Regions from separate parts of the Homo sapiens genome. Here region 1 is linked to region 2. The links come from fine-mapping of genetic effects on gene expression. A gene starts in region 2. The other region holds a variant in brackets. All regions are shown on one strand. Distances are from middle to middle. Region 1 has its middle 79 kb from the start of KCNQ5. Region 2 holds the start of KCNQ5 (potassium voltage-gated channel subfamily Q member 5).

The links. PIP is the estimated chance that this variant, and not a neighbour inherited with it, causes the effect. A credible set is the group of variants that fine-mapping cannot tell apart.
Region 1: its variant is the best candidate, but not a certain one, in a credible set for the expression of KCNQ5 in whole blood (TOPMed, PIP 0.50).

Annotation. Positions count from the first base shown.
Region 1 is chr6:72,539,966-72,545,345 of GRCh38, forward strand. No RefSeq gene overlaps it. Among named protein-coding and RNA genes, the nearest start is that of KCNQ5, 79 kb to the right of the region's middle. The variant G/A (reference allele first, on the strand shown) is at 3,337.
Region 2 is chr6:72,619,246-72,624,625 of GRCh38, forward strand. KCNQ5 (potassium voltage-gated channel subfamily Q member 5) reads left to right here and starts at 2,819. Exons shown (of 14, transcript NM_019842.4): 1 at 2,819-3,342. The coding sequence starts at 2,945. KCNQ5-DT (KCNQ5 divergent transcript) reads right to left here and starts at 3,434. Exons shown (of 3, transcript NR_186827.1): 1 at 3,287-3,434. RefSeq lists enhancers at 1,204-1,393, 3,504-4,455 and silencers at 2,814-3,073, 4,104-4,153.

The sequences.
Region 1 (5,380 bases), 79 kb before region 2:
ATTTGTGAGTTTTCATGATAGTGATTATTATCTCTTTGCTTCCAGATGTAGGGCTTCCTTGAGCATTTCTTCTAGGAGCCGTGCAGTGTTGCTAAACTTCCTCAGTTTTTGCTTGACTGTGAAAGACTCTAATTCTCCCTCATTTCTGGATGATAGATTTGCTTGGTATGGTATTCTTTGTTGGCAATTATTTTTCTTTCAGTGCTTTGAATGTTTCTTTCTATTCTCTGTTAATCTAAAAGATTACTGTGGAGAAATCTGCTTTTAGTCTAATTGGGATTACCTTGTAGTGACTTGATACTTTTGCTGTATTTAGAATTCTGTTTTCTGTCTTTGTCTTTGACTTTTGACAATTTACTATAATGTACTTTGGAGGAGGATTTTTTAGGTTGAATTTATTTGGGGACCTTTGATCTTCCTGGATCTGGATGTCCACATTCCACCTCCCTGCCCCGCCCCCACCCCCCCACCCCCACAAGACTTGAAAAGTTTTCAACTATCATTTTATTAAATAGGTATTCTATACTTCCTCTCTTGTTTTTCCCTTCTGGAACTCCCATAATATGAATATTTGTTACCTTAATAATGTCTCATAAGTCTTGTAGGCTTTCTTTACTCTTTTCCATTTTTATTTATTTTTTCTTTTGTATCAGTAATTACAAACAATCTATCAGCAATTCCAATGATTCTTTGTTCTGTTTGATAAAGTCTGCTGTTGCTGCTTTCTATTGTATTTTCTCTTTCATTCATTGAATTCTTTTTTTAAATAATTTCAACTTTTATTTTACACTCAGAGGATACATACGCAGGCTTGTTACATGGGCATATTGCATGATGCTGAGGTTTGGTATATGATTTTGTAACCCAGGAAGTGAGTATAGTATCCAATAGTTATTTTTCAACCCTTGCCCCCTTTCACCCTGCCTCTGTTAGTTCCAAGTGTCTATTGTTGCTGCCTTTATGTACATGAGTACCCAATGTTTAGCTCCCACTTATAAGTGAGAACAAGTGGTATTTGCTTTTCTGTTCCTACACTAATTCACTTAGGATAATGGCCTCCAGTTGCATCCATGTTACTGCAAAAGACATGATTCCATGTTTTATTGCTCTGTAGTATTCCATGGTGTATAGGTATCACATTTTCTTTACCTTTAACAACTGATGGGCACTTATGTTGATTCATGTCTTTGCTATTGTGAATAGTGCTGCTAAATGTATAAGTGCATATGTTTCTCTGGTAGAACAATTTATTTTCTTTTGGATACATACCCTGTAATGCGATTGCTGGGTCAAATGGTAGCTCTGTTTGAAGTTCTTTGAAAAAGCTTCAAACTGCTTTTTACAGTTAGTGCAATTACATTTCCACTAAGAGTGTATGTGTTTCATTTCCTCTGCAGCCTTGACCACATATGTTGTTTTTGACTTTTTAATAGTTATCCTGACTACTATGGAGTGGTATCTCACTGTGGCTCTGATTTGTACTTCAATGATGATTAGTGATGATGATTAGTGATGATTTTCATGTCTGCTAGCTGCCTATATATGTTATTTTGAGAAGTGTCCGTTCATGTCTTTTGCCCACTTTTTACTTGGGTTATTTGTTTTTTGTTTGTTGATTTGTTTAAATTCCTTATAGATTCTAGATATTAGACCTTTATTGGATTGATAGTTTGTAAATATTTTCTCCCATTTTGTAGGTTGTCTGTTTACTCTGTTGATAGTTTATTTTGCTGTGCATAAGTTCTTTTGCTATGCAGAGGTTCTTTAGTTTAAACTGCAGGATTTCAGTTTGATTCTTTTTTCATGGTTTCTATCTCTTTGTTTTACTTATCATTCATATTGTGAATTATTTCCTGGTTTTGCTAAATTATCTGTCTGTTCCATTGTATCTCATTGAGTTTCCTTAAAATCAATTATTTTGAAGTCCTTTTCTGGTAATTTATTGATTTCAATTTCATTGGGATCTCTTACTAGAGAATTATGTTTCTTTGGTGGTGTCACATTTTATTTGGTTTTTGCAGTTTTTTGTGTGCCTGCATTGACGTCTGTGTATCTGGTGGGGCAATGACCTCTTCCATAGTTTCTAGAGTGGCTTTCATAGAGAAAGAATTTCACCTCCAGTTGGGTTTTAGTGTGCCAGTTGAGAAGGATGTAGAGACGGTGTTTCCAGATAAGTGCAGTGTTACAGTCTCCATGTAGCTTCTTCAGCTGTGTTCAACATCAGCAATAAACTGTGAATGTCTCAGTAGTCTAGGCTGTAGAGTTCAGGTGTTTGAAGCAACTGTGGGGTCAAGGTCCTAGGCTCAGAATCTCACAAACTTATTACGACAGCTTGGTCTTAGGGTATAGGTTTATGTTCTGTGGCACGGTTGAATGCAGGCTGCCTACAAAGCCAGGATCTGTGACTCTGAGATATTTCCTAGCTGCTTGGGCCAAGGGACCAGGCTGTAGCTATGATTCTACCCATGAAAGTCAGGGCACAGCATCGGCCCAACTCTAGGGGAAAAGAAGTGCTCTGGAGGATTGGTCCTAGAAGGTAGGGTAAAGTTGCAATTCAGAAACTTGAGCCAATACATCTTAATGGCAATTCAGGTCCCGAGAATTGAGACATTGTGCAGTAGTGACCCTTGACCCTGTGATGGTGGGGCTTGGCAGTATCCCAGACTCTGTGAATCCAGACACAGTGGTAGCAAGTACTCCAGACTGGCAGAGCACAGATGTTGTTTGGGCCCTGGTGGAGAAGAACAGAAAACAGTATAGCAATAACCCCACTCCCCAAGAACAGCGATATTTCAGCAGCAAAGACTCTAGAGGGCTAGTCCAGCTCAAGGGAAGCAGAATATTAGAGTTTAGTAGTTTGGCCTGTAGGGTGGGGTCTCTCAAATCAACCAGTGCTCTGTTCTCCTGGAATGCAGTGTACTATGTCAGCTCATCCCTGGAATGAGCAGCAGCCCAGCTGGGCCAGGGCACCAATTCCCCAGCAGGGCAATGTGCTACTTTAGCTCATAGCTGGAAGCATGATTTTTTCTGAGCAACCCAGGTACCATTTATCTGAGTTGCAGGGCACTGCTTCAATGTAGATACTGGAATGTGTGACTGCTCTAGGTAGACAAGGCATCATTTTTTAAAATGCAGGGTGCTACTTCAACTTGGGCATTAGGGAGGCATGACTGTTCTTAGTGGCCAAAGTACTGTTTTTCAAGGTGCAGGGTATTGCTTCAGCTCTGGTTTGAGGTGGGAGGGGAAGGGGTAGGTGGAGCAGCTCTACCTCCATTTGGTCCTATGGGTAAGGTTGTAACAGCTGCTCACAGCTCTCGTTGGGGATGTTGGGTCACA[G/A]TTGATGGTGGTTCAGTGATGGCTTAGCCTCAGGGATGAAGGGTAACTGTGGCTACTTGCTCCTGGAACAAGACACATGCCAAGCATAGTTCCAGTTCAAGATGGTGTAATACAGTAGCAATATGTGGCACAGAGGATAGGGCAGAATGTTAATTCCTTCTCTGAGCAGAGCACAACTATGTGGACTCCAGGCAGCTCTGTCAAATAGGCTTAGTCCCCATGAGAATTGCAGGGGACCCCAGTGGTGAGGTCTGTAGGTGTCCAGGGTGTTGATGGGAGATGCTGAGATCTTCTTGCTTACCTCCTTACCTGAGGGACAAGTTTCTCCTGTATCCCAGTTGTGGGATGAAGTAGTGTAGCTTTGGCCTTTCCTTCCATTCTTTATATGGCCATCCTGAATAGCTTTGCACACCAGGGTTTCTATCACTTGTCTGATTAACTCTGACACTCCGCCTTCATTATTTTTGTTAAAATGTAGTTGTTTATTTGTTTTTCTGGCTATCTTTGTGAGGGGAAAAAGTGCTAGGAACTTCCAGTCAACCATCTTGTGATGTCCCTCCTCTCTTGATTTTACTGACTTTTCTATTGTTTTTCTATTCCCAATTTTATTTATTTTCATTATAATTTTTATTATGTTTTTCCTTTGACTTGATTTAATTAATTTGCTCCTTTTCCTAGTTTTACAGAGAAAGTTAAATTGCTGATTTCTTTTTTTCTTTTAATATTGACAATTTACAACTATAAATTTACTATTCATATTGCTTTTGCCACATCTCTTAAGTTTTGGTATGATGTGTTTTCATTTTCATTCATCTCAAACTATTTTCCAATTTCCCTTCTGATTTCTTATGTGACCCATTGGTTATTTAGGAATGTGAGGTTTGATTTCTACATCTTTGTTCACTTCTAAAATTTTCTTCTGTTAATGATTTCTAATTTTATTCTATGGTAGTCAGAGAATATACTTTGCATGACTTTCATTCTTTTAAATTTAACAAAAGTCATAGCCAAACTTATAATGAATCTTACAGAATGTTCCATGTGCACTTCAGAAAAATGTGTATTCTGCTGTTTTTGAGTGTAGTGTTCTGTATCTGTCTGGTTGGTATTTAATGTTGTCCAAGCCTTCTATTTTCTTGATGGTGTAACAAGGCCCTAACTCTCTTCTATTCTATGAAGGCCAAGAGAGATGAGAAAAACTAGAGAAGAAAAGTTGGAAGCTGGCAGAGACTGGTTCATGAAGTTGAAGAAGCCATCTCCACAACCTAAAATTGCAAAGTGAAACAGTAAGTGCTCATGTAGAAGCTGCAGCAAGTTATCCAGAAGATCCAGCTAAGATAATTAATGAAAGTGGCTACACTAAACAATAGATTTTCAAGGTAGAAAAAATAGTCTTTTGTTGGAAGAAAGTGCCACATAGGATTTCCATAACTGGAGAGGAAAGTCAATGCCTTGTTTCAAAGCTTCAAGGGAAAGGCTGATTCTCTTGTTAGGGGCTCATGCAGTTAGTGACTCTAAATCGCAGCCAATGTTCATTTACCATTCTGAAAATTTTAAGACTTTTTAAAATTATGTTAAATCTATTCTTCTGGCGCTCTATAAATTGAACATAGCCTGGATGATGCCACTTCTGTCTACAGCATGGTTTCCTGTATATTTTAAACCCATTGTTGAGATCTACTTCTCAGAAGAAAAGATTTCTTTCAACATATTACTGGTCATTGACAATGCGCCTGGTTACTCAAGAGCTCTGATAAAGATATACAAGGAGATAAATGTTATTTTAATGGCTTATAACACAATATTCATTCTGCAGCCCATGGATCGAGTAGCAATTTCTACATTTAAGTCTTATTACTTCAGAAATATATTTTGTAAGGCTATAGTTACCATAGGTAGTTATTCCTCTCATGGATCTGGGCAAAATAAATTTCAAAGCTTCTGGAAAGAATTCATCATGATAAATGCTTTAGAATATTAGTAATTCATGAGAGGAGGTCAAAAAACCATCAATAATAGGAGTTTGGAAGAAGTTAACCTAACC
Region 2 (5,380 bases):
TATTTCAGCAAAACGAACTAATAAAAGGCAGTTTCCTAGCAACGTCTGTATTCAAAGGAACAACAACAAAGCTTAATCGCAAACACCTTATTTTCTCCAAAGTTAATTCCCGTCTTTTGAGGGAAGTTAGCAGGTAGCAAATAAAGCAAGGTGCAAACAGAGGCTCTTGTAGGAGAGGTTGGCACAGACTCACTTGGCTTTTTCTTTCTGGGCATTGAAAGGTAGGAAGGTTAGAACTTCAGCTAAGCCAGTCTTTCCCAATGGTTGCAGTCAGAGATTGATACAAAACCCCAGAACTGTTTGCTATTTTATCCATTCTCTGCTGGAGATGCAGATTGATTGGTGGAAGGAACAGTGAACTAGGAAGCCAGGTTGTTGGATTCCTAGTAACTCTCACACTACCCGCGAAAACTTGAGCAGGCCCTCTTTTTCTGGGCTGTGTATCCAAATGGCGGTTACTCTAGAAGACATAAGTGAAAGGTCCTTCTCAGCAGCTCAAAACGGCTACCAGTAACCGGGTCTTTTTTATTTTTTAATTAAGCTTAAATGGCATTTGCTTAATCAATAATACAGTTTCACTAGAACTAATGCTGCATCCCCAGAAAAGCATCACTTAGAAATTAAACAGCTGGCTGTCTTCCAGGGAAACGTGTCCCTGTGTCCTGCCTTCCTGAGACTTCTTGCCTGCACGCGGGGCCCAGCCGCGCCAGAGAGATGGAAGTGACTTTACCTACCCAGCGAAAGTAGCAGTCTGCAACAAGGAAAACAGCTAAGTTAAGAGGAAGTGGTTTTCATTTTACTGCTTGCAGAAAGGCCAAGATTTTGACGTTTAAAGCGGGCACACGAGTCATTTTAAGTCTCTAGATCTTTCACCCTGAAAGTCCCTGCACAGAAACTCCATAGGGAGTCTAAATATAGCAACAGCACCCCCTCCCGCCCCCTCCGCCTTCAGTCAGGGTCCCGCGCAGCTCTAGGATTGGAGAGCTTACTCCAGGGCGCTCTCTGCATCTGCCTCGAATAGCACCGCACGGAGCAACCTCTCTCGCACCTCCACAGTGCGTGGGTGTGAAGTGTATTAGGGGAAAGCTAGAGAGTGACTCTGGGTGATGGTGCTCGGCTCACAGTCACATGGCGTCGCCGCCAGCTGCACAGAGCTCCCAGCTAGCTTCTGCTGCCCAGAGGCTTGGGGGGAAGGAGGGAGGGAAGCAGGCTCCTGCTGGTGACCAGGAGCAGGCGAGAGGGCTTCACACAAATAATAGTGATAATAAAGAGTAAAAGCAAAGCATTTAAATCGAGCTATTGCAGAAGACAGAAATCAGCTGCCGCGGGCGTGGGTGTGTGTACAGGGTGGGGGAGAATTGGGAAAGTATTTATCTCGGAGGGGCGGAGACAGCTGCAAGAAGACTTTTGTCTTAGCATTGTTTTAGCCTTAGGAAAGGAAAAGGCCCGAAGGAATCCACCTTGCAACTATCTGCTATGTCTTTGTGGTGGAAGCTTAGTTTTGCCTTCAATTTAATTTGATGATTTTCTTTCATATTTGGGGAAGAGCCACTCTGTTGGAAGAAGTCCCCGAGCCTGGCACCCTTCAGTTTTCCCTATGCTGAATGTGAGATTTAAACTGCCTTTTCTTTGTAATACACTGTTTCTGAAGGCCAGAGGCTGCGGCCAGTGGCACCGTGGCCTCTCTCTCCGCCAAGGGCGCATAGGCTTTGGGCCACCCGGGTGCCAGGGGTGGTGGAAGACCCAGTCAGTTGTTCCTTGCAACAGGTCTCTAAGCTTGTATGTTACAACATAAGGTGGGTGGGGTCGGAACCCCGAAAAGCCGGCGTCCTGGACACCCCATCCTCCAGGTGTTCTTTCCCAGACACTGGGTCCTCGCCGCCGCTGCTGAACTTCTCAATCATATGACTTTCTCGGACTTAAATGGAAATTTCTTGACGGAGGGAACTGGGTTTGTTCTCCCAGGCTTCGCGCTGCAGTCAGGCAGAGCCCCGGGGCAGCTCGCTCACCGCGGAGGAGCCACTTTGGAGTTTTACGCCCTTTCCACACCCCACCCATGGACTGGAAAGGATGTTCAGTTACTCGCGAGCTTGTCTGATACTGGGATGGAAAGTCACAGTCCGCAGGCTGGAGTGAGGCGCGGGAAGATGCCTGGTCCTTGCCTCGCGGACTTGGCAGCCGCGTCCTGCGGGTCTGTCCACTGAACTGCTGAGGACTCGCCCGTGTGCGGGGACCCGAGTGCCACTTCCCGGAGCGTTACCTTGCGCTCCAGCCTCCAGGCTAGATAATACCTGGAAGGCAGGGCAGGGCTGTTCCCGCTCTCACCCCTTGCGGAAGGATGGCAGGATCCGGCGCAGCGACGTAGCAGCGGGAGGGCACAGCGACCTGCATCTCCAGTTTCTCCTCAGGACACAAGGCTGACTTCACCTTCCGGACAGCTGCAAAGCCCCTGCCAGAACCAAACCGAACTCGCGCCTCGGAGAGGGGCTTCTGGGGCCGTTTCGCTGCAGGGCGTGGGGAGTGGAGAGAGGGAAGGGGAAGCCTGGGGCTGGGTGTGCGCGCGTGGGAGCGCGCCTCGGAGCGCCCCGCACTCCCCCACTCTATCCCCGGGGGCAGTTTGGGAAGGAGGGAGTGGTAGTCGCGGGAATGAGGGAGCAAGAGAAACCCTCTCAAAGTGACGCCCCAAACAGGTCCGGATTTAGAATTCGAAGCTAAAGGCTGTTAGAAATTGGGACTCCTCGGCCTCCTCTGCAGCCCCTCCTTTCCCGCCCCGAAGCCCGGGCGGTTTGCTGGCTGCCTGCTTCCCCGCCCCCGGCTCAGAGGTCTCTGGCTGGCGGGCGCCCCGTCGGCCGCCGGCTTCCTCCTTGAAACCCGCCGGCGCACATGAGGCCGCTGCCCCCGCCGCAGGCGCTGGCGGCCCCCTCGCGGTGCCCGTGGTGATGCCATGCCCCGCCACCACGCGGGAGGAGAGGAGGGCGGCGCCGCCGGGCTCTGGGTGAAGAGCGGCGCAGCGGCGGCGGCGGCGGGCGGGGGGCGCTTGGGCAGCGGCATGAAGGATGTGGAGTCCGGCCGGGGCAGGGTGCTGCTGAACTCGGCAGCCGCCAGGGGCGACGGCCTGCTACTGCTGGGCACCCGCGCGGCCACGCTCGGTGGCGGCGGCGGTGGCCTGAGGGAGAGCCGCCGGGGCAAGCAGGGGGCCCGGATGAGCCTGCTGGGGAAGCCGCTCTCTTACACGAGTAGCCAGAGCTGCCGGCGCAACGTCAAGTACCGGCGGGTGCAGAACTACCTGTACAACGTGCTGGAGAGACCCCGCGGCTGGGCGTTCATCTACCACGCTTTCGTGTGAGTACCCGCGCCCCCTGCTATGCCCGCTGCAGGGGACCACTGTCCCTGGCCCCCTGGGGCGTGCTCCGCGCTCGCGCCCTTGGGCCCCCGCGCGCGTGCACACGTGGTGGCTTTTATTTCTTCGCACGTGTTCGTGGTCTTCCTTCTGGAGCCTCTCCCCTCCCCCAGCCCCACTTCTCTCATCTCTACAGCTTGAACCTTTTCCCCGAGGACACCCAATGAACTGCCCGGTAGCTTCAGGCTCCCGGGGCGAGAGCCAGGCAGACGCGGGACTTAGGCTGCGCGGATAATTGGGAGCAATTAGGTCCCAAGATACGTAAACTTCAACCGAACGGGGCGCCCGGGAGCTAGGGAATGCAAAGGGAGGACAGGCGCCCGTGTGAGGCTTGAGAGTATACTGGAGAGGTTAGGAGGTGATGGCGGGGTAGGACGGGGAGAAGTGAGGGGGCATCGAGGGCTAGGTCCTCAGTCCTAGGGGCGGAGTAGGGGAAGCTGCTACTTGGAGAGAGCTGCTAGGTTTTAAGCGCGCCCGGAAACACGCCTCGCCACCACCCAGCCACCACCAACGGAAAATCTGTCAGTGCATGTAGCCCTTCCTGCCACGGAGAAGGTGGCCAAGGTCTAGAGGAGGCCAGCAGGCCAGGCGAAGCAACGCTCCCGCGCTGCAGGGGGCGGGGAGGCAGCGGGGAACCTGGGGCGCAGGAACGCGGGCGGAGGTGCGATAGCAGAAGCGCAAATGGGTCGCCTCTGACAGAGATCGGGCAGTGGGTTAAGTCCCCGTTTGTGGCGCGGAGTCAAAGAGTGTGTGTGTGTGTGTGTGTGTGTGTGTGTGTGTGTAGTAAGCCTTCTCCATCTAGCAGAGAATGCTTAATGAGAAAATGATTGGAAGCAAATGTTTATTTTTCCCTTAGGCATTTAAAACCTTTCAGTGGCTTTAAAGTTTACTACTGTTTTTCCCACAAAGTCCATTCATTCAGTCTCCTATTAGAGTTACGTTTATCTGGGCATTTTAAGGTTGTTTTTATAATGTTACCTCGTGTCTAATTCTTTTTTTCTTCCTCTTCTCCTTTTGCTTCCTCTTTTTTTAGTATTATTATTTCTGCTTCTTTTTTGTTAAGATGAAATATAAAGACATCAACCTTAGAAGACCAGTAGAGAAAGTTGCAGATACTCGCTGATACATTCCTTGTTTCCTAGTAAAATAAGTTTTGAGCACACGGACTAGGTTTCTTTTAGAAATAAGTTATGTCATCCATACATAGCTCTCTCCTGGGATGCAGAATTAGCATCAACACCAGAAACGTGTTTTGAAATAACATGGAAGAAGGGCTGGTTTTGTAACTAGGTGAACCTGGAATTCAACCACATAGGAGTCAGGAAATTGGTGGAGTCTACAATCTGTGGGGCTCTGGTGTCTGGAAAATTTTACAGTCCCAGATTGACGTGAACATGTAGCATTAGGCAGAATATTCCAGCCAACTTTCCGTTTTACAATGCACACAAGGAGAACGGTTGTGTTGCATCATCATTACATCAAAAAGTATAACTTTTATGTAAAATTCACATTTATTTAAATGTGGTTAGGATAATGATAGAGAAATGCAACTGACACTTTTCTCGTTAATCTCCTCTGACCTGATATGTAATTAAACATATTACTTAATAAGCCTGGTAAATTATTTTGACCTGTCAGAATATACTAAAATAATTTAGCAATTATAATGCTCAATTTGGTAGCAAATATATATACTGTATAGGTTATGATTTTTTCTTTACAACAGTATGCTCAAAACATTTCTAGCCTTTCTTTTTTTTATATTATGCATTGTATATTCAGAGAGAGTTAAAGAAAGCCTTGGTTGGTGCACATACTTTGCATCTCCTAACTTGTTCTTGAACATGAATGAGAACTTGCAACACAACATTTTCTTTTCCATGTGTTGGTGTTAACAGGTTTGTATGGGCTTACAGAATTTTAAAACATTAATAAATGATTTTTCCAAAGGTTCAAGGTTGGATACTTCTCTGTCTACCA